2 separate regions of the Homo sapiens genome follow, and region 1 is linked to region 2. The links come from fine-mapping of genetic effects on gene expression. Tissue or cell type: whole blood. Region 2 holds a variant in brackets; the other region holds the start of a gene. All regions are shown on one strand. Distances are between the middles of the regions. Region 1 holds the start of ANO6 (anoctamin 6). Region 2 overlaps ANO6 (anoctamin 6).

The links.
Region 1: ANO6 starts here. The variant in region 2 is fine-mapped to the expression of ANO6 in whole blood (TOPMed, PIP 0.98).

The regions. Positions count from the first base shown.
Region 1 is chr12:45,214,480-45,217,392 of GRCh38, forward strand. ANO6 (anoctamin 6) reads left to right here and starts at 1,616. Exons shown (of 20, transcript NM_001025356.3): 1 at 1,616-1,912. The coding sequence starts at 1,843. It also overlaps the pseudogene PLEKHA8P1. RefSeq lists enhancers at 1,382-1,481, 2,492-2,621 and a silencer at 1,942-2,251.
Region 2 is chr12:45,261,679-45,264,591 of GRCh38, forward strand. The region is part of intron 1 of ANO6 (anoctamin 6); the gene reads left to right. Among named protein-coding and RNA genes, the nearest start is that of ANO6, 47 kb to the left of the region's middle. The variant G/A (reference allele first, on the strand shown) is at 1,523.

The sequences.
Region 1 (2,913 bases), 47 kb before region 2:
AAGTTTCTACTTTTAGTGAGTTTCACAAGCTCAGGGGAGAGTGTTCAGTGAAAGGAAACAATCTCTTCTCATCTTTCTTCTCCCATCATTTTTTTCTCCTATCTTCAGAGTACTGTATTGTTGTCTCTTTATACTAAAAACAATTCTGTTTATTCAAAAAAAGTACCTCAAGAAGCAAGTATAGTGTTTCCCAGGTATTTTCTTAAAAGTAATTTCATCATGTCTTTTCATGTATATATTCATGTCTATTTTCCCACTTAAGATTGGTCCCAATGTTTTCTTTCTTTCAGAGAGAACATTAAAAATGTTAGGAAACTGAGGTGCAAGGATTGCTGGAGGCCAGGAGTTCGAAACCAGCCTGGGCAACATAGTGAGACACCCATCTCTACAAAAAAATTTAAGAATAAGCCCCACATGGTGGTGTGCTCCGCTTGTAGTTCTAGTTACTGAACTCCCACCTCGGCAACAGAGCGAGACCGTCTTAAAAAAAGTATGTGGAAGAAAAAACATGCACAGTAGATTTAGTGTTATTGTGATAACCCTAGCACTTCAGTGGAAAAAATATAAACAATTTCAATGAGTAGACAATAACACATATAACCAAGATTTCAAATATACCTTCTAGCCCTTTTGAGAAGTCAAAATTGAACAACCTGAATGTACCAGCTTTTTTGAAAAAAGTTTTGTAGACACGCGATCCCCAAAACCTGCCGTTCAAACAACTCCAAGGGTCTTTAAAGTACTAAATCCCTTTGTATTTGTCCTATCGGTCCCTTTGGTTTCCAGGAAAGCATTAAAAATAAAAATAAAAACTCTCTGCCTTAATTTTATTTCACGACTTTCTTTTCTCTTATTATAGCTTTCCACATTGCTTTAGAAGAGTTTACATCTAACTCTAGTGGTCTTCGGCTTCTTCTCCCTCTTTGACACAGAGGACTAGTTTCAATTGTACAAATAGGCTGGACGCTTCAGCGATTATCTTCCGACCACTCCCTGTGTGCTCGCGCGGGCGGAGTAGGGGGCGCTTCTCCACTCTCCGCGACCTCAATGTATGCGGAAATCCTCCTGCCTTTGTGCACACGTTTATTTAGAAAATTCTCTCCACCCCCACTCCCGTCCGTCCCGCCCCTTCTTCTTTTGCTTATTCTCTGAGTTTTGCCTCTCCTCCCACCCCGACTCCACCGTAATCTTAACCTACCCGTACAGATTCCACTTTCCCACTTCGGAGCTAGAGTAATTTAAGATCCCCCCATTATTAGCTCCACGTCGCCTTTAAAAGCCATTCAAACGAGTTCGCCTTCCAGGGTTCTGCAGTTGTGCTGCAGCAGCATTTCCCTCCTCTCCAGTATCAGACGTTAAAACAAAGCAAGCCACAGTGTGTGTCCACAGACGACCTTGGAACGAAAAGCTGCCCTGTTTGGGATCAATGCTCAGGGAACCCAGTCCACTCCCGCACTCACGTGTTCCCGCCTTGCCCTCCAGCTAGTTCCCCCGCGCGCAGGATCGCACTACTCCCTCTGCAGTCTCGCCTGCCGACTTCCTTCTGCGCGCCTCGTAAAACCGGGGAAGTTCAATCATTCCGCAGCGAGCCGCGGCGGCCGCACTGGGCATGCTCAGTCTCCGGGCTCCGCTCGGCAGGCGAGAGGCGTCCTCCGGCTCTGGGCTCCGGTCGGTGGGTGCCTCGGCTCGGCTTTCCCCGGCGCTGGCTGGGCTCAGCGGCCCCTGAGCCCAAGCGACACACGCCCCGCGGTCCCCGATCCGGCCCCTGGGAGAGCCGCGCCGTTCTGGAACCCGGGAGCCCCCAACTTCGCGCCAAGTTCGGAGCCGCCTTCTGAGGGAGACATGAAAAAGATGAGCAGGAATGTTTTGCTACAAATGGAGGAGGAGGAGGACGACGACGATGGGGATATCGGTGAGCGAGGGGTCCCCGCGTCCCCACCCGAGAGCCCGAGCCGACGCGGGAAGAAGTTCGGGGACTGCGCGGGGGCGCTGTGCTCTCCGCGGGGGAGGTTGGCCGAGACGCTCGGCCGCTCCGGGCAGGGGAGGAAGCCCGCTGTCCCCGGCTGCTTGCAGACTGAGGCCCCGGTGCGGCCCCTGCGGGGCTGAGGCGCGGGGCGCGTGGTGGCCCCGAGGACAGGCTCCTGACGGGCGGGGGATGCTGCCCCTGAAAAGCCTGGCAGCTGCGGGGACGCCTCTGCGTGCGGAAGTCTCCACTCAGAAGCAACTTTGGGGTCACTTCCCCGACTCGCAGAGTGCTAGGGTTGCCCAGGAGCCTCGGCACTGGGGCGAGCCCCCTGGGCGGGGTCCGGGGAGCAGGCCCGCATTTGGAGGACAGGGTGTGACCCATCTGAATCCTCGTTAAAGTAAAAGCCGACCGACGGCTCTGGGAGGTTTGAGGCCTGGCGGGGCGGCCCCGGGAAGTGATTTGTGGCCGCTAGGCGCGCGCTGGAAACCCTTTCCCATCTGCGGAGCCCACCGGAGCTGTGATCGGAGGAGGAATTCCCCCAGGCAGGGAGGACCGCAGGGCCTTTTTCACTCGTCCTGAGGGGCCCTGGGGCTTGGGGAGCAAACCTGGGGTGACCCATTTCTAGTTAGAGTTAAAAATGCATGGAAGTGACAAGACGAACGGAGGGAGAGCTGTTTTAAGAGCAAAAAAAGAAAAAAAGGGCAAACAAAAGGGATGAGAGGAGGTGAGGAAGGGGAAAGGAATGAGAGGACTAGAGAGAAAATCAGGTCCCTAAAGAGAACACTGTCGGGGGATGATGATATAATGTGTCCCTCCAGAAGACTCTAATTAAATTACCAAGCCAGTCTGTTGTGGCGACTCGGCTTAGTCTCCTGGATGCCAAATCAATTTTAAAGCAGAACATCCTGCTGATGTTCTAAAGCCCTGTTGTTATCTAATAACTTTAA
Region 2 (2,913 bases):
CTTTGAGGTGTTGCAGACTGGCTCATCACAGGTTCTGAAAGTCTTTCACCTCTGAGAACAACTGTGCATTTGATCCAGTTGGTCACTTGTGTGTCTAAAACAACCATCAGTTGCTGCTTCTCAGCCTGAGCAAAGCATACTTACGGTGCATCACATCTGAAAGGCATACTTTCTGGCAGAGCAAAAGCTAAATAATACATTTCAATTTTAAAAGGTACCGTTTTCACTTAAATGGCATGTTTTATGGACTATACAGTGAAGGCAAGCACAAATGATATGCAGTATACAAGTATAATACATCAAGGATCATAGCAAGGTAAATGATTTTGATCCACGTTTAACCTGCTGATAAGGAAACCTTTCTATCCATGCTGCTTGATGTCTTTTTCCAATTATACATATTATATGTGAGCCATTGTAGAAATTTTGGGAAATACAGAAAACTGCAAATAAAACAAAAATCACCCCAACACTACCCCTCAAAGATAAACCACCATGAATATTTTAGTATGCTGCTTTCCCGCCTTTTAAAAAAATGCAAATGTAGTTTTATATGGTTTAGACCTATGGTATCCTGCCTTTTCACTTAACTTGCCTCATAAGCACTCTCTGTTTATCTCTTTTATTGGGTTAAAGTATACATAACATAAAATTAACCATTTTAACCATTTTTAAGTGTACAATTCAGTGGCATTAAGTATATTCAGTGTTGTGCAATCACCACCACTATCCATTTCCAGAGCTTTTTTTTTTTTCTTTTTTGAGACGGAGTTTCGCTCTTGTTGCCCAGGCTGGAGTGCAATGGCGCGATCTCTGGCTCACCGCAATCTCCGCCTCCTGGCTTCAAGCAATTCTCTTGCCTCAGCCTCCCGAGCAGCTGGGATTACAGGTGTGTGCCACCACACCTGGCTAATTTTGTATTTTTAGTAGAGACAGGGTTTCTCCATGTTGGTCAGGGTGGTCTCAAACTCCCAACCTCAGGTGATCTGCCCGGCTCGGCCTCCCAGAGTGCTGGGATTACAGGCGTGAGCCACTGCGCCCGGCTTTCCAGAGCTTTTCATCATCAGCACTCCCTATATTTAAGAAGGCTTCACAAACCACATTTAATGGCTGAATAACATTCCATCACATAAAATTTACTTAAAGGTGTTTTCCAGAAGACATTCAACAGATATTTAGTTTGTGCTTATTATAAACTATACTTTGTGGCGAAAGTAGTGAACAAAACATGGCTTTTGTCCTTCAGGACCTGTTGGAGGAAATGGCCAATTAGTAGGCAGGTTGAGTCCTGTAGAGGGGCAAGTACATGGTCTATGGGATCATGTAGGAGGGGAACTTAACTTGAGGTATAATTTGCATAATCATTCCTTGATTGTTGCAGATCTAGCATGCATCAGATTTTTTTGCTGTTATAAATAATATTGAGAGAGATTTGTAGGTATAAATATTTGTCTATATTTCACATTATTTTGTGAAGTTCTTGAGAAGTGAAATTACTGGGGCACGCATTCTAACAGGGGCC[G/A]GTACAAGATGTTCTATTTTTTATCTTGAGAGACAGAGTCTTTCTCTGTCACCCAGGCTGGAGTACAGTGGTGCGATCACTGCAACTTTGAATTCCTGGGCTCAAGTGATTCTCTCACCTCAGCCTCCTGAATAGCTGGGACTACAACCATCATGCCTGGCCTGGCCTTTTTTTTTTTTTTTTTTTTTTCCTGGAGAGATGGGATCTCATTTTGTTGCCTGGGTTGGTCTTAAACTCCTGGCCTCAAGCATTCTTCTCACCTTGGCCTTCTAAAATGCTGGGATCACAGTCGTGAGCTGCCCTGCCTGTCCTAAAATGTCCTTTTAGGACACTAATAATTGTTACCTACTGTGCTATTCTCAAGGTTAGGAGCTGCACCAAGGATTTCCATTGCCTGTTTCACCTTAAACCTCTCCTAACTTTTTATAGATGTGTGTACAACTTGCCTCTGGCAGGATTACATGAAGAATGGGGGCTGAGAAGTGAGTGTATCCAACTGGGAAGAGCCAAGGAGGGTCAGAGGCAAAGGGATTGTGGCTGAGGCTGAGGTTATGTGGCAGGTAACATGCACACCATCCAGGTGTTTGTACTCATTTCAGAGGCCTTGGTTTGACAAATGCTTTAGGGCTGTGTTCACTGTGCGTGCTGACAGCTTGGCTCCCTTCTGTGAAATTTCATTCTTGTGAACTTCAAGTCACTGAAATAAAAGTAGCCTATTTTTTCCCCTTTAAACGTATCTGTTCATCGTCTAAACAAACTCCCAGTCTGTTATCAGAGCTGGAGGAGACCTTTGGATATCATATCATCTTCCCTGTTCAAACTAAACCTAAAGATTCTAAGACTTAGAAAAGTTAAGGAACATTCGGAAGGAAACCGAGGAAACCAGCTTGGTGGGTGTAATGAGGGGTTATAGCTCATATCTCTTGATTTAGCTGCTGGTCACCCCATTACCTGCTGCATGTTGTCTTCAGGCTTTATTCTCTCCTTAAAGGAATTTTTTCTTCTTCCCACATCTTGATTCCTGATTTTGTGCTCTGCTCTTTCCTTCTAAGATGTGTTATTCGAGTGTTGAATACATGTATGTCTTGGCTAATGCCTGTGAACTGGAAATTATGCTGATAAGTTTGCATTCCTTATCCTACTCTGTCCTTGGCCTACTAATTGGTTTGACAGTTGATTGTTCTCTTCATCTTGGCCTCTTTGTTTCTTGGAAAGTTTCTGTTGACTCTGGTAAAAGTAATCAGTTATGTCTTATTTAGTCCCTTTGGATAATTTTTTGGGGGGTTGGCTTTTATTAATTTTAAGAAGTAATACACCCACCATTGATATAGTAAGTGTGGCAACCTGTCATGGACCAAAGAGTAAAGTTTTAAAATAGATGATTAATATTG